6 linked regions of the Homo sapiens genome follow. The protein of the gene in region 3 purifies or fractionates together with the protein of the main gene of each other region. This does not show direct contact. Each region holds a gene or a part of one and is shown on either strand. Other genes may lie near its edges.

Region 1 (3,500 bases), on a different chromosome or scaffold from region 3:
AAACTGACATGTGCTATAATTGTAAAATACACACTGAATTTCGAAGACTTAGTACAAAACAGGGTAAAATATCTCAACAATTTTAGTAGTGATCACATGTTAAATGAAATAAATAAAATACAACTGACCCTTGAACAACATGGGTTTGGACTGTCCGTTTCCACTGATTTTATTTTTTTAGAGACAGGGTCTTGCTCTGCCGCCCAGGCTGGAGTGCAGTGGTGTGATCTCAGCTCACTGCAACCTTGTCCTCCCAGGCTCAAGGAATCCTCCCATCTCAGCCTCCTGAGTAGATGGGACCACAGGTGCACACCATGATGTCTGGCTAATTTAAATTTTTTTTTTTTTGGGTAGAGATGGGGCCTCTGTATGTTGCCCAGGCTGGTGTTGAACTCTTGGGCTCAAGTGATCCTCCTGCCTCATCCTCCCAAAGTGCTGGGATTACAGCCGTGAGCCACTGCACCCGGCCATGAGTGTGTCCACCTATATGTGGGTTTTCTTCTTCCTCTGTCATCCCTGAGACAGTAAGACCAACCCCTCCTCTTTTCTTTCACCACACCTTCCTCAATGTGAAGATAACGAGGATGAATTTTATGATGATCCACTTCCAGTAATGAATAGTAAATCTATTTTCTCTTCCTTATGATTTTTTTTTCATCCAGCTGCTTTATATGCCCATATGCCTTCTACACTTTGAACCCTGGACCAAGTTCAGCTGCTAGGAAACGCAAATTCCAGAGCATACCTAAGATGCATTGGATCAGAAACTCTGGGAATGGGGCTGAGCAATCTAACAGGCCTTCCAGGTGATTCTGATACACCTTAAAGTTGGAGAAACCTGGCTTTAGATCATAAGGGAAAAGAGTAAGACACTCAGGCAAAGCCCAGCTCTGCCCAGCACGGCCTATTTCACACACCCTCACCTCTAGTCCTGCTTGGCTGATGAGGGAAATCTATCCTGTGGATTCCACTTTCATTCATTCCAAACTTTCTTTTATTGATAACATTTCCTCTCTAACTTCATTGTAAGAATACAGTATATAATACATATACCATATGAAATGTGTTAATGACTGTTTATGTTATTGGTAAGGCTTCTAGTCAACAGTAGGCTATTAGGGCTGGGTGCATGGATCACACCTGTAATCCCAGCTACTCAGGAGGATGACTTGAGGCCAAGAGTTCAAGACCAGCCTGATCAACGTAGCAAGACCCCCCATCACTAAAATAATAATGAAAACCCCAAACAACAGGCTATTAGTTAAGTTTAGGGGAGTCAAAAGATCTATCTAAATTTTTGACTGTGTCAGGGCACCTCTAACCCCAATGTTGTTAATGGGTCAGATGTAGCATTAAAATTATTTCATCTGTTTCTTTATATATATATTTTACGATGTGGCTTGCCTCAGTGGCACACCTTATCTTTCTACTGCAGTGCTAAGTTAAACATCATTCTAATGGCTCCGGAAGGACAATCTGCTTGCTGGACTTCATCTTCCCCTCCCAGCCATTCTGTCAAGTCCTTGTGTGGGCCTGCTGTGGTTGGTCCAGCAAACATTCACTCTTTATCAGGCAGAAGCTCCCTGTTTGTTCCTTGGGGAGCCATCCCTTTCCTGGTCTAAGCGCATCTGTGCACACAGGTGATCCAGGCCTGGCTAATCATTGTGGCCCATCCTGCCCTCCCCGCCCCCACCGCGAACAGGTTGAATGGCTTATGACCAAGGCTGGAGGAGCAAAGGCTAACCCCAGGAATGTTTCTGGAACTATCTGGCAAGAAGCAGGTATGTCTTTCCAGTAAGGTTGGTAAGTGAGGAGCCTAAAGCTGCCTGAGAATGGGGCCTTCCCAGGGGAAAGCAGAGTGGAGAGAAGGAGAGAGAGGGGTCTGAGACCACCACTCAAAACTCTGGCTCTGGTCATGCCCTGGGGGCAACTGTTGGTCTTTCCCAGACTTTCCAGTTACATTAGCCAATAAACTCTCCTTTTTGCTTAAAGCATTTTTTTTTTTTGAGACCCGGAGTCTCGCTCTGTCACCCAGGCTGGAGTGCAGTGGTGCAATTTCAACTTATTGCAAGCTCCGCCTCCCGGGTTCATGCCATTCTCCTGCCTCAGCCTCTCGAGTAGCTGGGACTACAGGCGTCCGCCACCACGCCCGGCTAATTTTTTGTAGTTTTAGTAGAGACGGGGTTTCACCATGTTAGCCAGGATCTTCTTGATCTCCTGACCTCGTGATCCGCCTTCCTCGGCCTCCTCAAGTGCTGGGATTACAGGCGTGAGCCACCGTGCCCAGCTGCTTCAAGTGTTTTGAGTCGGGAACCTAGAATTGTGCTGTTGCCAGTGACAGCTTATGGAACTGGCTGAGTCAAGATGGCTATGGTGTGACAGGGAGTTGGCAGGCCTTGTTAGAGAGTGGCAGAGTGTGTTGGTCACTTCTTGTGACCGCCAGGAAGATACTACAGATAGAGAGAAACTTCATCTGAGGCTGGCCCGCCTCAAAGAAAACAGCTTTGCTATGGAGGCCTTCTCTACAGAAAGCAATCTAAGGAGACATAGAGCTGTATTCTCTGCCCAAATTAAAGTCAACAAATGGGCTGGGCACAATGGCTCACGCCTGTAATCCCAGCACTTTGAGAGGCCGAGGTAGGCAGATCACCTGAGGTCAGGAGTTTGAGACCAGCCTGGTGAAACCCTAACTCTACTAAAAATACAAAAAGTAGCCCAGCATGGTAGCATGCACCTGTAGTTCCAGTTACTTGGGAGGCTGGGGCATGAGAATTGCTTGAACCTGGGAGGTGGAGGTTGGTGCCTCCGCAATCCAGCCTGGATGACAGAGAAAGACTCTTGTCTCAAAAAATGAAAATAAAGTGAACAGAAAGAAGGCAAACTTGGAAAAGAGTCTGGGACCCAGAACTCCTAGGGACCTAGGGCCGTGCCTCAGCAGTAAAGAACCACCCACTGGTCAGCAGGCTGGGGGCATACTAGTTTTATCTCTCCCTCCCAGGCTGCTGTTTCAGACTGCCATGAGGCAAAGGCCTATGGAACCATTAAACTGTAGGTTAGGGAAATTTCCATGTCTGCTGCTAAGTGACTGAGACTTAACTTCGAAAGACCGGGACTAGTCTTCATGTGTAACTCTCGTTACTAAGCACCAAACCATAAATTGACCAAATTTGAATGCTAGATGGACAAGCTACTAAAATTGCAAGGCACTTTTATTGCGAAAGAATCACTAAGTCTAGAAAGTGAAGGTCCATGATGTTGAACCTCTAAGGAAATCAATCACTAGGTCCAAAAGCCACGCCAGAAATAAGTGAGGTGTGAAGAAGGGGCAGCCCCAGAATTCCTCCCAGGAGGTGGAACTTGGGGTGGACTTATAGGCTCTACAAACTGCTGTCCCTGTGGAGGACATGACAAGAAGCAGGAGGTGAGCACTTTATGTCATTTCCCCTTTTCAGAAGGGAGGTTCCCGTTGGGTTATCCTGTTATTTTTCCTCCCCTGTTGA
Region 2 (3,500 bases), on a different chromosome or scaffold from region 3:
ACTGGGGAGGTGGAAGTTGCGGTGAGACGAGATTGTGCCACTGCATCCCAGCCTGGGTGACTGAGTGAGAATCTGTCTCAAAAACAATTAAAAAAAAAAAAGTTCTAGTCTCCAGAGCAGCAGCAGCGGCACCAGCAGCAGCAGCATCATAAACTCATAAATCAAAGAAACATGGGTAAGTGTGATTATGTTAAAAACATACACACAGCCAAAATTACCAGAAGCAATGTCAAAAGAAATGACAAAGGCGAACGCAGCCTACAAAGGGCGCATGTGCAGAGGGGCCTACAAACAGGCTCATTCTCGGCAGCACTGCCTCCAACAGCGTAGAGAGGAAAAAAATGCTCTCCAACAGAAAGCTGATTTAATACATTATGTACATCCAAACAATGGAACTCTATGCAGCTTCAAATGAGAATAAACAAGTATTGCCATACGTGGTAGAAAATGACTCAGAGATATTATTAAGAGAATAACGCAACATACCAAAGTATATATATCATATGCTACTACTTGTACAAAAGTGGGGAGGGATTATATACTATGAGCTGTAGCTGCATATAATATCCCCCCACCCCAAATTAAAAGAGAAATAGTGATTGCTTCTGGGATAAGGGGCAGTCTGAGAACTGGGGTAAAAAGTAGCTTCAGGCCAGGCACAGTGGCTCACGCCTGTAATTCCAGCACTTTCAGAGGCCGAGGCAGGTGGATCATCTGAGGTCAGGACATCGAGATCAGTCTGGGCAACATGGTAAAATCCCGTCTCTACTAAAAATACAAAAATTAGGCGGGCGTGGTGGTGGATGCCTGTAATCCCAGCTACTTGAGAGGCTGAGGCAAGAGAACTGCTTGAACCCAGAAGGCGGAGGTTGCAGTGAGTCGAGACTGTGCCACTGCACTCCAGCCTGGGCAACAGAGTGAGACTCTGCCTCAAAAAAAAAAAAAAAAAAAAAAAGGGCCGGGCGCAGGTGGAAGCTCAGGAGGCTGGACAACACGGTGAAACCCCGTCTCTACTAATACACAAAAAAATTAGCTGGGCGTGGTGGTGTGTGCCTGTAATCCTAGTTACTTGGGAGGCTGAGGCAGGAGAACTGCTTGAACCTGGGAGGTGAAGGTTGCAGTGAGCTGAGATTACACCAGTGCACTCCAGCCTGGGTGACAGTGTGAGACTCCATCTCAAAAAAAAAAAGATTTTCTTCTTTGTCTGCAGAGTGGAAGATTTATGAAGACTCAAAAAGCACAATCTAAAAGAACAAAAGTGATATATTTACCTGCTTTAGGGTGAAGGACTCACACTTCTGATTTCAAAGCTTATGGCAAAGCTACTGTAATCAAGACAGTGTAGTACTGGCATAAGGACGGACATACAGACATATAGATCAGTGAAACAGAACTAAAAGACCAAAAACAGACCCTTACATTTGTGGACAATTGATTTTTGACAAGGGTACCAAAACAATTCAATGAGGAAAATACAGTCTTTTCAACAAATAGTGCTGGAACAAATAGATATCCATGTGTAAAAAATGAAATTTGGACACCCACCTTGCATTACATACAGAATTAACTTAAAATGGGTTGAAGACCTAAACATAAGATGTAGAAAAATTATAAGCTGGGCGCGGTGGGTCACACCTGTAATCCCAGCACTTTGGGAGGCTGAGGCGGGAGGATTGCCTGAGCTCAGGAGTGTGAGACCAGCCTGGGCAACATAGTGAGACCTGTCTCTTTAAAAAATAAAAAATTATAGAACTCTTAGAAGGAAACATCAGAGTGAATCTTTGTGATCCTGGGGTAGGCAATGGCTTCTCAGAGATGATACTGAAAGCACAAGTAACAAGAGAAAAACTGGATAAAAGAGACTTCACCAAAATTTAAAACTTTAGTGCATCGAACGACACCAATCTCACCAAGAAAGTGAAAAGAACTCACAGAACAAAAGAAAATACTTGGAAATCATGTATCTGAGGAGAGACTTGCATTTAGAATCTATTAAGAATTCTTACAATTCTGTAATAAAAATGACAGAACCCAATTTTAAAAATGGGCAAGTGATCTGAACAGACATTTGTTTAGCTGAAGACAAAGGCCAACAGGCACAAGAAAAGATGATCAACATCCTTAGTCATTATGGAAATGCAAATAAAAACTACAATGAGACACCACTTCATACTCAGTAGGATGACTAAATTCAAAGAATAACAGGCCAGGCATGGTGGCTCACGCCTGTAATCGCAGCACTTTGGGAGGCTGAGATAGGTGGATCACCTGAGGTCAGGAGTTCAAGACCAGCCTGACCAACATGGCGAAACCCCATCTCCACTAAAAATACAAAAACTAGCCAGGCGTGGTGGTGCATGCTTGTAATCCCATCTACTCAGGAAGCTGAGGCGGGAGAATTGCTTGAGCCTGGGAGGCCGAGGTTGCAGTGTGCCAAGATCGAGATCGCACCACTGTACTCCAGGCTGGGTGACAAAGTGACAATCCATCTCAAAAAAAAAAAAAAAAAAAAAGACAGAATAATAAGTCTGTCCATGTGGATATACAACTGGAACCCTCCCACACTGCTGCTGGGAGTACAAACGGTACAGCTTCAGTGCAAAAGAGTTTGGCAGCTCCTCCAAATGTTAAATGCAGAGTTACCACAACTCAGCAATTCTACTCCTAGGGGTGTGTGTGTGTGTATGTATGTGTGTATGTATGTATGTATGTATGTATGTATGTATGTATGTATGTATTTTTGAGACAGAGTTTCACTCTTGTTGCCCAGGCTGGAGTGCAATGGCGTGATCTCAGCTCACTGTAACCTCCACCTCCCAGGTTCAAGCAATTCTCCCGCCTCAGCCTCCCAAGTAGCTGGGATTACAGGCATGCGCCATCATGCCTGGCTAATTTTGTATTTTTAGTAGAGACGGGATTTCTCCATGTTGGTCAGGCTGGTCTTGAACTCCCAACCTCAAGTGATCCATCCACCTCAGCCTCCCAAAGTGCTAGGATCACAGGCGTGAGCCACCACGCCCAGTCTCTACTCCTAGGTATATCTAAGAGAAATGAAACCATACATCCACATAAAAACTTTTCACAATATTCACAGTATCGTGACAGCCAAAAAGTGGAAACAACCCATCAGGTGTCCATCAGCTGATGAATGATAATATCATTACAATGGAATACTATTCAGCAATAAGAAGGAATGAAGGCCTCGCGCAGGCTTCAACCTGGGTGAACCCTCAAAACATTACACTAAGTGAAGATGCCAGACACAAAGGACCATTTATGTATTATAGAATTTCATTTCTAAAAAATCTCCAGAATAAGTTCAAAACCAGCCTGGACAACATAATAAGACGCTGTCTCTCCAAAAAATAAAAATAGAAAAAAAAAGAAATTAAAAAAAAATTAGCCAGGTGTGGCGGCACATGCCTGTAGTTCCAGCTACTCAAAAGGCTGAGGCTGAAAATTCGTTCAAGCCTAGGAGGTCAAGGCTGCAGTGAGGTATT
Region 3 (3,500 bases):
GTGTAGTGGTGCATGCCTGTAATTCCAGCTACTTGGGAGGCTGAGGCAGGAGAATCGCTTGAACACGGGAGGTGGGAGTTGCAGTGAGCTGAGATCATGCCACTGCACTCCAGCCTCTATCTATTTTTTTGGAGACTCTATCTCCAAAAAGAAAAAGAAAGAAAGGTTCTCAGTGGCATTGCTGGAGAGCAGGCTGGCAGGGCTATGCAAGGGGTAGGGAGGGACAGAGAGGAAAGTTGGGGCAGCCTGGGGCTGGGGAAAGGGGTAATCTAGAAAGTGGGGTCTCAGTTCTGCAGATGAACAGATTTGACACTGACTCGAGAGGCTGATGAAATAAGAGTTGTTGGACCCGATGTGGGTGGGAAGGTGGAAATGATGTTCCCAGGTGTTGGCCTGGCTCAGTGGGTGGCTGCCTGGTGCTGGTCACCTAGGAAGGGGGACCAGCAGCATTGTAAAGATGCAGGTGTGTCTACAACAATGGCACACAGTAGGTGCCTGAAAGGGTATCAGTTAAATCAGAACACATCCCCCAGTCTATTTTACTGATGAGAAAATAAAGGCTCAGATAAATTGAGTGACTGAGGCCCTACAGGCCTAAGATTGCATAGCTAGTGGTACCTTGTCCAGTTCGGAGAACTCGATCCTCTCCTCCAGGGTGCAGCTCCGGCCGATGGGCGAGATGTTCAGCATGCCATTCCGGAACTCGATGAAGGTTCCACTGGTGGTGAGGGAGGGCGGGGAGCCAGAGAGAACCAGAACGGCCCTGAATTCAAATCTAGCCCCACCTGGGACCCCAGCCTCCTAGGACTTCAAAGGGGACAAGAATCCACACTCCCCGCAAAAAATCAGGGGCCCAAGTATCTCCAGGTTCCCTCTGAGGGACCCACACTTCTCCTCCCTCAGGCCCCAGGTTCTGGAGACCAGGCTGGTGGGACCTCACCGCTTCTTGGGCAGCCTGAGCAGGGCCATGTAGCTGAGGCAGAAGTTGATCAAGTCCTGCAGCAGCTCCTCCCCCAGGTGGTTCTGGATGGTCTGGCCAAGGAACACAGGGCTCTGAGCGTGGCCTGGGCTGCCTGACCCTGAGACAGGCACAGTGTCTCTCCCCCAGCCCAGGACAGAAGCCCCCTTGGACTGCTCCACTATGGAAAAGTGGGGTGCCCCTGGCTAAGCCCTGGGGGACACTGACCTGCTTGGAGAGCAGTCGTCCGTGCTTATACTGCACCGTCCCGTTCTCGGCAAACACATAATCAAACTTCTCAATGACTTCAGGGTCACATAGAGGACAGGAGGAAGAAAGAGTGTGAGACCACGTCTGTGACCCCACGGGCAAGTAAAGAGAGAGGAAGCCTACACCCTTGGTTTCACATTCAAAGGCCATTTGTTCAATCTGAGGCTACAACCTGCTTCTCCAGCCTTTCTCCCTCTGCAGCTTGGTTTTCTTCCAAAGAAGCCAGTCACACCTGTGGGCCTCTGCACACAGGCATCCATGCAGGTCCTTCTGTCAGAACCGCCCTTCCCTGGCTTCCCTGCCACTCATCCTCCAAGATTCAGCTTCCTCCTCTGGAAGCCATGCAGTACTCTCTGGCAGAGGGCATCATTTCCACTCTGTGCTCCCCTGCCCCTCTGCAGAGGGGCTCCCTTCTGTTCTATAGCTGCCATCGCACTGGGTTCTCAAGGCTGGCTGCATGGGAGAGTTGGAGGTTTCAGCTCTGACTGCCAGGCGAAGCAGTTGGAGTGGGTGGGAGGTGGGAGGCACAGGGAGCACAGCCCAGAGGCTGTTGCGGGGTCTGGGTGGCACGTGGTTACCTGGACTATGATGGCGTGGTGGAGATGGAGACAGAGGGGACAGGGAGATATTTTGGGGTTTGCTGATGGAATAAACAAGAGGTGGGGAAAAGGAAAAATTCGAGGAAGTTTCTGGCTTGAGGAACTGGAGGCACCCACTTTGACTGGGCTGAGACCAGGGGCTCTGAGGTCCAGTCGATTTCCTGGATAACTTCAGAGTCATCCTCTGTTAAATGGGATGATCACGCCTACTCTAAAGTGTGATTGTGGGGATCAAATGCAATGACATTAACACATGATCATTTTTGACAAATGGTAGCCATCATTGGTTCTGCCCTTTTATTTATTTATTTATTTATTTATTTATTTATTTATTTATTTTTGGATGTGTAGCCTCACTCTGTCACCCAGGCTGGAGTGCAGTGGCCTGATCTTGGCTCACTGCAACCTCCGCCTCCCAGGTTCAAGCGATTCTCCTGCCTCAGCCTCCCGAGTAGCTGGGATTACAGGCACGTGCCAACACACCCAGCTAATTTTTTGTATTTTTAGTAGAGACGGGGTTTCACCATGTTGGCCAGGCTGGTCTTGAACTCCTCATCTCAAGTGATCCATCCGCCTCGGCCTCCCAAAGTGCTGGGATTACAGGCGTAAGCCACTGTGCCGGCTGGTTCAGCCCATTTTAAAGATGAGGAAATCAAGACTCAGCAGGGAGAAATGAGAATGTAAACTGCATAAGGGCAGGTTCTGCTTGCTTTGCCCCAGCCATTTCTCAAGGGCCTGGCACAATCCCTGGCAATAGGAAGTGCTCAAGTGTTTGTCAAATCAGTAAGGGAACTATCTGGCTGCTCTCTCTCTATTTCTTCTGCCCCACAGAAGCAGGACTGGATCTTTGAAGACGCCCAGGAATCTCTCAAACTCCCCACTCCCTCTACCCCCAGCCTCACTCCTACCTTCATCCCCGTCACCCAGCTGCTCAGCGATCTTACAGTAGTCAGAGCCGCCCACCACACCGATCTGCACTCTACTTCGTAGCTTCTGCAGGAAGGCGGCCACCTCAGGGTCAATTTTCTATGGGGGGAGAGGGGAAGCATAGCATTCTGGCTTTCAACATGTCTGGGACCTCCACTTAGCCCTCACTTAGTGCTGAGAACCCAGGAAGCCCACATTCTACCTGGATCTGAAGCAGTACAAAGCTTAGACACCAAAAATTAGACAGGTTGGACACTGTGGCTCAGGTCTGCAATCCCAACACTTTGCGAGGCCAAGGCAGAAAGATCACTTGACCCAGGAGTTTGAGACTAGAGCCTAGGCAGCAAAGGAAGACATTGTCTCTATGAAAAAAAAAATTTTTTTGGAGACGAATTTTTGTTCTGTCATCCAGGCTGGAGTGCAGTGGTGTGATTCTGGCTCACTGAAACCTCTGCCCAGGCTGGAGTGCGATGGCGTGATCTCAGCTCACTGCAACCTCTGCCTCCCGGGTTCAAGCGATTCTTCTGCCTCAGCCTCCCGAGTAGCTGGGATTACAGGCGCCTGCCACCATGCCCAGCTAAGTTTTAAATTTTTAGTAGAGACAGGGTTTCGCCATGTTGGCCAGGCTGGTCTTGAACTCCTGACTTCAGGTGATCCATCCGCCTGGGCCTCCCAAAGTGCTGGGATTATAGGCGTGAGCCACCGTGCCTGGCCGAAAGTTTTTAAAAATTAGCCAGGCATGGGCT
Region 4 (3,500 bases), on a different chromosome or scaffold from region 3:
AGGTGTGTGCCACCACACCCAGCTAATTTTTTTTCTTTTCGTTTTTCAGACAGGGTCTCACTCTGTCACCCAGGCTGGAGTGTAGTGACATAATCATGACTCACTACAGCCCCAACCTCTGGGGCTCAAGCAATCCTCCCACCTCAGCCTCCCAAGTAGCTGGGACTACAGGCATGCATTACCATACCCAGCTAATTTTTTGTAGAGATGGGGTTTCACTATGTTGCCTAGGCTGGTCTCAAACTCCTGGGGCTCAAGCGATCCTCCTGCCTTGAGCCTCCCAAAGTGCTGGGATTACAGGTGTGAGACATCTTGCCTGGCTCTTATTTTTTTTCTTTTCTTTTCTTTTTTTTTTAATTTTTGAGACAGAGTCTCGCTCTGTCACCCAGACTGGAGTAAAATGCTGTGATCTCAGCTCATTGCAACCTCTACCTCCCGGGTTCAAGCGATTCTCATGCCTCAGCCTCCCAAATAGCAGGGATTATAGGCAGTGCACCACCACACCTGGCAAATTTTTCTATTTTTAGTGGATGGGGTTTCACCATGTTGGCTGGGCTGGTCGTCTTCAACTCCTGACCTCAAGTGATCCACCTGCCTCGGCCTCCCAAAGCGCTGGGATTACAGGCGTGAGCCACCAGCGCCCGGCCCCGGCTGTTATTTTCTAAAGTGAACGTGTAGGTTTTTAAAACTTAAAAAAAAAAAAAAAACAACAAATGTGTATTTTAAAACTCACTGTATACCTGAAAGAGAACTTCCTTATTTTAACTTCTTGCTTATCAATTTATTAACTAAACTAGCAAACATCCAATAGGAACACAGCTCAAACATGTTCTTGTGAAGATCTGTTTCCTACCTTTTGAATACACAGGAAAATATAGTAGAGCACATCTGGGTCATAGGGTTCACCTTCTCCATTTCGAGCTTCCCGTGTCATTAGACAGAGCCCATAATTCAACTCTGCCACAGCAGAGGAGATGAGATCTTCCTGGAATCGCAGCAGTTGGCGCCCTGCAACGGAAGCCTCAAAAATGAATGAAGGTCCTGGGGGTCCATATCTGGAAGGCTCAGAACAGATACTGCCCATCAGGGTGCTGGGATAGAAATGCTCACTTGTATCTACTAGAATGTTTCATGCCTGTAATGTCAGAACTGGCCTATAACATGAGTATATGAGCCTAATGCCAAGAAAGAAGGGCTTGAGTGCCTATCCCTGGTTCCCATTTCCTCCCAGAAGCCACTCTGCTTAGGTCTGGTAGGGTCAACTCCTGAAACCCGTATGTCTAAAAATGCCTGGTTTTGGGCAAACCCCACATATCCTGCTTATTATGTACACAAGGTCAGTACTGCTTGTTACTAGGCTTGAATTCAACATACTATTACAGATGTTGCTCTCTTGTCCCCAAGACAGGAGACACCACTTTTCTGGCATTTTGTCCTCCTGTTACTTTAGTACCATTGCATTTTAGACACAGCCCACTCTTCTTCCAAGACACTCACTCCCAATGGGTGCCAATCTGTTCTGAGCATCCTTCTCTAGTTCAGCATTCTTGGTCTGGGCCCAGTTTTTCCATACTTCAAGCCCTTCTTCTGGCTTCAAAGAATTTGGAAGCAGAAGTTCTGGGGAAGGCTGTGGCTGTGACTGTGGTTCAACTTCAGCAACCTGGACAGTTTGAGCCTATAGGAGAGAAACCATGAAAATGTGTCAATATTGTTTTATATTAGATCCTTCTGCAAAATTGCCAGAAAAATGTTATGTATAGTTCATTTATTTAAGAAAATATTTCTCTACTCATTGCTGTCCTACTTTTAAGAAGCTTTGGAGTTCTACCTCTTGCCCCAGGGACAGCAAAAGCAGCACTGCAACTGGGCTAGTGCAGTGCTTCTCAGCCTTGGCTGCACTTTTAAATGTTTTTTTTTTTTTTTTTTTTTGAGACGGAGTTTTCCTCTTGTTGCTCAGGCTGGAGTGCAATGGCGCAATCTCAGCTCACTGCACCCTCCGCCTCCCGGGTTCAAGTGAGTCTCCTGTCTCAGCCTCCCGAGTACCTGGGTTTACAGGCATGCACCAACACGGCCAGCTAATTTTATAATTTTAGTCGAGACGGAGTTTCGCCATGTTGGTCAGGCTGGTCTTGAACTCCCAACCTCAGGTAATCTGCCCGCCTCAGTCTCCCAAAGTGCTGGGATTACAGGCGTGAACCACTGTGCCCGGTCAAATCTTTTATTTAAAAACACTAATAGCCAGACTTACCCCAGAATCTCTCTGAGGGGGAGCCAAGGTATCAATTGTTTAAAAACTCCTTGAGTAAGATTGCACCACTGCACTCCAGCCTGGTGATAGAGCGAGACTCTGTCTCGAAAAAAGAAAAAAGAAAAAACAAAACAAAACAAAAAAACTCCTCAAGTAAAAAAGTAATTCTAATGTTTGGTCACCACTGAGAACTACTGGCTCAAAGCACTGCTCCCACAGTCTTTAATGTGCAAACAAATCACTTGGGGATTTTATCAAAATGCATATTCTGATTGAAAAGGGTAGGAACTGAGACAACATTTCTTTCTTTCTTTTTTTTTTTTTTGGCGGGGAAAGAGTTTCGCTCTTGTTCTTGGATGCTGGAGTGCAATGGCAGGATCTCGGCTCACCTCAACCTCTGTCTCCCGGGTTCAAGCTATTCTCCTGCCTCAGCCTCCCAAGTAGCTAGGATTACAGGCATGTGCCACCACGCCCGGCTAATTTTGTATTTTTAGTAGAGATGGGGTTTCTCCATGTTGGTCAGGCTGGTCTTGACTCCCATCTTCAGGTGATCCGCCCTCCTCAGCCTCCCAAAGTGCTGGGACTACAGGCTTGGGCCATCGGCCGAGAGCACTGATTCTTAAACTGGGTCTCACCTTGAAATCATCTGGATTGCTTTAAAAAAAAAAAAAAAAAAAAACCCACCCTGGCCGGGTGCAGTGGCTCACACCTGTAGTCCCAGCACTTTGGGAGGCCGAGGTGGGTGGATCACGAGGTCAAGAGACTGAGACCATCCTGGCTAACACGGTGAAACCCCATCTCTACTAAAATACAAAAAAATCAGCCGGGTGTGGTGGCGGGCGCCTGTAGTCCCAGCTACTCAGGAGGCTGAGGCAGGAGAATGGCATGAATCCAGGAGGCGGAGCTTGCAGTGAGCCGAGATCGCACCACTGTACTCCAGCCTGGGTAACAGAGTGAGACTCTGTTCACAAAAAAAAAAACCAAAAAAAAAAAAAAAGAAAGAAACCTCACACTTGGGCCTTATCTCCAGCCATTGTAAGGTAGAGGCACATTGTCAGTATTTTTAAAAGCTTCCCATGTGATTTTTTTTTTTTCCCTCTGAGATGGAGTCTTGCTCTTTCGCCTAGGCTGGAGTGCAGTGGCACGATCTCGGCTCACTGCAACCTTCACCTCCCAGGTTCAAACGATTCTCCTTTCTCAGCCTCCCGAGTAGCTAGGATTACAGATATGCACCACCATGCCCAACTAATTT
Region 5 (3,500 bases), on a different chromosome or scaffold from region 3:
GTATGGAAACCAATGTTAATTTTGTAACTCTCAACTTTATTGAATATAGTGTTTATCAGCTGTAATGGGTTTTTTGTGGAGTCTAAAACACAGACAATCTCACCCCTTCCCTTCCTATTTAGATGCCTTTCCTTTCTTTGCCTTGTATAATTACTCTGGCAAGTCAGTTACATATAACGTTCTCAGCATTTGTAATTTGACATCAAATCCATCTGTTGTAATACACTGATTGTTACTTTTCAACTCGAAAACATGGACATTTATCACTACTCTCCCTTTCTCTTGGTCTAGTTGTTATTTAAAAAAAAACCTATCAATGCAAACCAGGATATTTTTCTACAAAACAATTTCAAACACACTAAAAGGTTTTAATCTAACAATTTTTAAACTTTCTTTGTCAATGACTTTGAACTGTGGTCTCTCGGAACAAATCCAACACCTTTAGTAGAAAAATTATGTTAATTCCTACATTATCATTGGGTCTAGCCAAGAGTTGACCAAAGGTGATATTAACAGATATGCTTATTTATTACCTTGTTCTCAAAGTTCTAGCGTAAGTCTTGAAAAATCTAGTAAAAATTTGTAAAGACTATAATTGCACAAACTCCCTCTCTCATGAGTCACACAGTTAATCCAGAATACTATTTCTAAGTTATTGTAAAGCCAACAAGTAAATATGATGTAGTGTATAAAAATAATCCTAATTGCATTGTATATTCTGTAAGTGACATATGCAATTGATACTATTTACTAAATATCTCATAATTATATTTATTTACATAGAAAAAAGGAATCAAAAACATATCTATTATCTAACGTTTAAATGATTAAAAATACTTGAGATAGCATTGCTACATAAATGCTATGTAAATGCTGAAGAAAGTAAAAATGTCATTCCCTACATTTGCTAAATATATTGTGACACATTATAAGCATTTTTAAAATATATCACTAATGGTTGGGTCAAGTCAGCAAAAATGATTCTAAGTATTTAATTGTGGAAAAATTTAGTACAGGGGATAGTATTCATGTGATGGAAGGATTTTAAATGGAACCCAGAGATTAGCAGCAGCAGTAAGTTTTAATTGCATACCAGGTGCAGAGTCTAGGATACAAGACAGAACTGCAGATAAAATCTGACTCCTTCCAGCATAGCTAGGAGACATGGCTAACTCCACCTGTCCGGAGACCTTACCTAGAAATCTAACGGCTCCAAACCAGGTAAACAAAACTATTTTCCAAAGTCAAAGCATCAATTTATGACATTAAAGCACTTCTAAAACTTAACCTCTGACTTAAATTAGACCAAATGGATAAATTTTGAAGATATTTTTATTTTACCACTGACTTTAACACCATCTTTATTTCCCAAAGATTACTGAAGTCACATGAAATAAAAGGCATTAGAGCTTCTATTTTTCTTACAAAATATTTAAGAGCTTTCATTTTCTTTTAAGCCGAGCCATTATATATACATCACATACACAACACTTCTAGACAAGAAAAGATCTAGCAGTTGTTCAGTTTTTCTTTCCCACTTTATGAACCATAACACAACTTCCACAGACTATCTACGACATGATTAAATTTATCTGACCTGTCCTGTATTTCCCTCTTTTGTAATTAGTCATTCTACTTTAGGACAACAATTTGCCATATAAGATCCTCTCTCATATAACATTTCTTTCCTTCATAACATTTCTTATAATAAATACATCTTCATATCCACAATTTTCTTTAGATCTCTCTCCCCTACTAATTTCTGATGCCCATCCAAACCAAAAAGGTCAGACAACGCAAGGCAAAACAGAGGAGAGCCTTAGATTTTTGAGAGGGACCTGTCTGCTTAAAGTTCTTGGGGTTCCATGAGGAAAACAGAGGTTTCTCCTAAAATGGGGTTTGTGGAACCTTCTGTTTTTCCTTAAGGAGTCCCAGGTTGTCAGAAATTACCTTAGATCCTCTCATGTGGGCATCAAGAGTGGCAACAAGAGAGACTGGGGTAATAATTCAGACAACTGAGCAGAAAAAGAAAAACTTACTACTGTCCCCACTGTAATGATGGATAAACTGAGGCACCATGCAGTTCAAAAATTCATGTTCACATAATTAGGATCCACAGCTCACTCTCTTAAATAATTTTGCCAACTCTATGCCCAGTCACTGATGCACCTGTATGGTAGCTCATGGCCCCCTTGGAACTTAGAACCTGGGTTTCATTCCTGCTCTACGGCTATATAATTCAACAATTTTCCTTTGAATTTGTTGGACTCTAACCCTGTATATCTCAAATTTTATTAGTATTACTGAATCTTAAAGGGAGCTGTGACGTCTTTAGTCTTTAGAAATATTAAACCTATAAACAAGGACTATATGAGGTTAAACAGTATTCAAATTTCTATATGCTTTAAAACATGGACACAATGTATTGAGAAACACACCTACAAAACTGCACCCCATCAACTCTGGACAAAAATTTAGATATTATCTCTTCAATATAACCTATCTAGTGGTATTTATACATATTCTTCCATGTATCAATGGTATATTACATGCTCATAACCTTAAAAATAACAAGTGTTCAAATTATAGGCCTTACACATTTCTACGGGCTTGAAAAATGATACAATATAGATTGTCTTTAAAGCAGTCAAGAAAATGCATAAACTTCTAGAGGAATCAGTAAAATAAAGATAAAAAGTTCACACCTAAAGTAGTAATACTAGGAATAAAAGAGGGCTCGACACTGCAGGTTCTTAGATACAAAAGTTAATAAAGCCTTGTTTTTGGTTGTGAATCTTTGCCTTAAAATACACACAGCCGACCGAGGTGGGTGGATCACCTGAGGTCAGGTGTTCTAGGCCAGCCTGGCCAACATGGTGAAACCCCATCTCTACTAAAAATACAAAAATTAGCCGGGCGTGGTGGCAGGCACCTATAATCCCAGCTACTCAGGGGGCCAAGGCAGGAGAACTGCTTTCACCCAGGAGGCAGGGGTTGCAGTGAGCCAAGATCGGGCCATCGTACTACAGCCTGGGGGACAAGAGCGAGACTTCATCTCAAAAAAAAAAAAATTACACACAATTCTCCCGACTTCCTTTTTCTCTTGCAAAGAGGTGGTGATGAACCAGGTTTGCTCAGGCAGATGGCAATACTCTTGAAAATGGTGGCAGAGAGCCAGGCGTGGTGGCTCACACCTCCAATCCCAGCACTTTGGGAAGCTGAGACAGGTGGATCACTTGAAGTCGGGAGTTCAAGACCAGCCTGACCAACATAGAGAAAACCCATCTCTATTAAAAACACAAAGTTAGCTGGGCATGGTGGCACATGCCTGCAATCCCAGTTACTCGGGAGGCTGAGGCAGGAGACTTGCTTGAACCCAGGAAGCGGAGGTTGCAGTGAGCCGAGATCGCCCCATTGCACTCCAGCCTGGGCAACAAGAGCAAAACTCCATCTCAAAAAAAAAAAGAAAGAAAACAAAGGAAATGGTGGCAGAGAAAATG
Region 6 (3,500 bases), on a different chromosome or scaffold from region 3:
GAAAATTATAGTTTAATTAAATGCAACATTATAATTATGTATTGAACACCTATATTCTTAATTGCCACTTTTCCAGAAAGCAGATAATTACTCTTGGTTGCATTGGAAGATAGCATTTTACCAAACAGTCACAAATTTATAATTATTGAAAAGAAGACTTGTCCATAGCAATATAAGAAGTTCCTAATTACTCATAGGTAGAAAGAACAGGTATCTTAGGCAAATCCCCAAGGATGTCAATCTACAGGACAGACTTTTCAGAATTGTCAGGTCCCTGATGTTCTTTTGCTTCCTAGGCAGGGAGACTTGGTTGTGGGTTTCACCTTCTCTTCCTTCACCAGTGTTGTTTTGAGGTGTGTTGATGAGGAAGCAAAGATGGACTTCGGAGTCTCTCTTTGTGTTGGCTCTCCTAGGCAAAATCTCTTTGCCTCTCTATGGGAGGACTATCCTAGTTCAAAAAAAAATTTTGTGTTTATCTGCCTTTTTTCCTGAAATTTATTTTTCCTATTATTTCCCCCCAAATTTGTTTAGAGGTATATGGGCAGACATAGATTTGAAAGGGAAAGGGACAACAGGGGTTTGGGGAACAAACTGATATTCATGTGCTGTATGTAAAATCAAGGTCAGAAGGCAAAGGGAGAGGAGAGATAGGAAAGTAGCCATATAAGAAAAGCATAAGAGTAGGAAGGAAAGAAGTTCAGGAGAATTAATATAAAGGAAAGACAGAGGGTATTAGAACTGGAAATGGAATTAAGTGGAATGGAAAGAAATGAAAGAAAATGAGAGAATAGAATGTAGTTTGCTATGTAGTCTGTGAAGATCAATGATTACCCTTAGTGATTGATCTGATGGGTACAATTGCGTGTGCTTCCACCATCACGCTCTACCTGGTGTGGGTCAGCCAAACATTTTGAGTAAGAGACCAGAACAGAGCCTTCTTAAACATTCCTGGTTTATTCCTCAGTTTGCTCGCTTGGATTTAGTTCTTCATGAGCCCAGTAGCAATCTTTAAGCAAGGTGCTAAGCACCTGCTAAATCCCTGTAGGGACCTTCCGCAAGTAAGAAGATATTTTATTTTATCATTTTAGACATGATTTCTTTTTCTAGCTCAGTTATAAATTAAAATATGTGGGGTTTATTCAAAATACAAGTGTGGCTTTTTCTGTCCTTTACATTTCCTGTATGTCAGTCCTCTAAAGCTTTTGACCAAGAGAAGTAGATATGCTGTGACGTAGAGAAGGAATGTCATTCTACTTACTGGCATCACTATTTTCTTCAATGCTGGCTGTGTATACACTTTGCGAAAAGACTGGAGCGTTATCATTTATGTCCATAACTTTGACTCTAAGCTCAAGAGGCCTTTCTAAATCTTCACCCCGTGAATTCAGAGCCCGGCAATAGATCTGTGGAAAATTGGAAAAAAGCCATCTTTTTCCACCAAAGGAATTTTAGTAACATGCTTGAAAATATATCAGAAAATAGGCAAAGAAACAATTTTTTCCAGTGAATTCAGACTGTAGTACAGTCAAATAATTTAAATATGATCAGGACACTTGACTACATGTACATGCAACATACCAGAGAATCCTGAACTATAAACTTTTATTTTCACACTCTTTCCATTCCTTCAAGTCTTCTATTTGGGTTCAGTCTGCCATGTTTTATCAAAAGTAATCCATTATCTTAAGATAATATTTTTTGAAAAAGGGAAGAAAACTAATATGAACAAATCAAAACATATGGCTATGACTTACCAAGAAAAGTGGAGTTATTTCTCTGTCTACCACTGAAGTGATGTTAATTTCCCCAGTGCGAGGATTAATGGTGAATACCCCATATGGTGGTCGATCAATCCCTACTCCAGAAATCCGGTATGTTATCTTCTGGTTCGATTCGCAGTCTGATCGAATCTATAAGAAAAATAGCTAGGATTGTGATCCAGTTTAGAGCAGATAATGCTTAAGAGTGTAGTGGAATAAGAAGGGAGTGGGTTTCTTTACCAAATGGGCTTTGGATTGAAACCTGACACCATGACTTAGTCCTGTGTGACCCTGGAAAATTTACTTAACTTTGCCCAGATCAGCTTACAGTGGGGATAATATCACACAGATTTGTTGTGGGAATTACATGAGGTAATGTGTATAACATACACACTTGGTGCTAGGTTTGTTGTTAATAACACATTGTTCAATTCTCTGATTTTTTAGCATACGCAGAAATAGCTTCACAAAAGAAATTACAACATTTACTATTTTTTAAAAATAACTTGTGTCATATTAATAAGTATCCTACCTAAGCTGGAGTCTGAGATTTAGTCAAAATGGTAGATAAGTTGAGAATATCAGAAAACTATAATGGTTAGAGATATTTGTAATAATTTTATAAATGTAAACATACTGCATCACTTTTCTGCCAAATAGATTTTATGGCAAATATTCTGCCACACAGATTTTGCTTTAGTAGCTTTATTACCTATTGCTGATAAATTTAAACTGAAACAATTTTGAAATCTCACCTATATACTAACGATAAGAGCATTCAGTAAAATAGTAAGATTTTTTACCCACACATTCACAGTCAAATAAAGACTGCTGGAAATAGAACTTTGGTTAGCTTAACTCTAATCCAAAGGCCCTTTTTACATAGAAGAAAACTCAAGAACCTCCCAAAATGCAGAGAAAAAGAAAAGAATATGCAATATAAGTGGAATAACATAAAGCAATTACTGAGTTGAATGGAAATAATAATTTAAAAGCGTCCCTCCAATTTGAAAACATCTGAGAGAGAATACATCTGTTTTCTTGAGCTGAGGTTGTATCTGTAACACCACTGCTGATGCTTACTATGTTTTTAATATAAAGCTGGAAGGAGGGAATTCTGCAGATCACTTTACTGTTCAGGATCAAGATGTCCAGAAAGAGTGAATGAAGCTATTAATGTGGATCCCATCCTTCCTGGATCAATTTATTACACATTCTTTAACTCTCCTTCCTTTTCAGTAGGCATTATTTGTGAAAGTCTTATAAGACTCTCTTATTTTCTGGATGTAGAGATCTGGTGGGAACTTTTGATACTATCCTTACTTTCCTGGAGTTAATTCATCTAGTGCAGTAAACTTGGCTTGACTTTCTGGAGGGCCAGGCTTCAGACTGTCACTATGTGAATACGTTTCCTATGACATTGACAGGCAATAATGAGCAGTACACAAATGGATGAACAAAGCCCAGTTGTGCTGGAGATCCAGCCCTTTCTTCTAGAATCACTTGCCATTGACTGCCTGCCCCACGTCAGCCTCCCTGCACATGATATTCAAATCAGTGGCTCAGCAACTGGAGCAAATGACCACATTCTGTCTTCTTAAATAACTGTGGAGCAGTGAAGCCTGCAAATCTTGGAGATATTTGAAAGCTTCCCTGCTCTGCAAAAGCATTTGTCATCAGATTGCTTCATCACTTACTTTGGCAATGGGGTTCCTCTTCGAGTTGTCCTCTCCTTCTCGA

What was found.
Region 1: the proteins of PMM1 (region 3) and E2F3 purify together in Homo sapiens (pull-down; one large-scale study listed by IntAct). This does not show direct contact.
Region 2: the proteins of PMM1 (region 3) and VPS33A purify together in Homo sapiens (affinity purification with mass spectrometry; one large-scale study listed by BioGRID and IntAct). This does not show direct contact.
Region 4: the proteins of PMM1 (region 3) and QRICH1 purify together in Homo sapiens (affinity purification with mass spectrometry; 3 studies listed by BioGRID and IntAct, with this or other methods). This does not show direct contact.
Region 5: the proteins of PMM1 (region 3) and POTEE purify together in Homo sapiens (affinity purification with mass spectrometry; 3 studies listed by BioGRID and IntAct, with this or other methods). This does not show direct contact.
Region 6: the proteins of PMM1 (region 3) and DSG4 purify together in Homo sapiens (affinity purification with mass spectrometry; 3 studies listed by BioGRID and IntAct, with this or other methods). This does not show direct contact.

Annotation. Positions count from the first base shown.
Region 1 is NC_000006.12:20,474,879-20,478,378, reverse strand, and holds part of E2F3 (transcription factor E2F3), read right to left. Parts: intron 1-3,500.
Region 2 is NC_000012.12:122,256,495-122,259,994, forward strand, and holds part of VPS33A (vacuolar protein sorting-associated protein 33A), read right to left. Parts: intron 1-3,500.
Region 3 is NC_000022.11:41,583,341-41,586,840, forward strand, and holds part of PMM1 (phosphomannomutase 1), read right to left. Parts: intron 2,854-3,500; coding exon 2,736-2,853; intron 1,264-2,735; coding exon 1,187-1,263; intron 1,033-1,186; coding exon 941-1,032; intron 719-940; coding exon 619-718; intron 1-618. UniProt on the Homo sapiens protein: Involved in the synthesis of the GDP-mannose and dolichol-phosphate-mannose required for a number of critical mannosyl transfer reactions. In addition, may be responsible for the degradation of glucose-1,6-bisphosphate in ischemic brain.
Region 4 is NC_000003.12:49,045,572-49,049,071, forward strand, and holds part of QRICH1 (transcriptional regulator QRICH1), read right to left. Parts: intron 1,676-3,500; coding exon 1,498-1,675; intron 1,009-1,497; coding exon 854-1,008; intron 1-853. UniProt on the Homo sapiens protein: Transcriptional regulator that acts as a mediator of the integrated stress response (ISR) through transcriptional control of protein homeostasis under conditions of ER stress.
Region 5 is NC_000002.12:131,212,536-131,216,035, reverse strand, and holds part of POTEE (POTE ankyrin domain family member E), read right to left. Parts: intron 1-3,500.
Region 6 is NC_000018.10:31,386,777-31,390,276, reverse strand, and holds part of DSG4 (desmoglein-4 isoform 2 preproprotein), read right to left. Parts: coding exon 3,458-3,500; intron 1,911-3,457; coding exon 1,755-1,910; intron 1,404-1,754; coding exon 1,259-1,403; intron 1-1,258.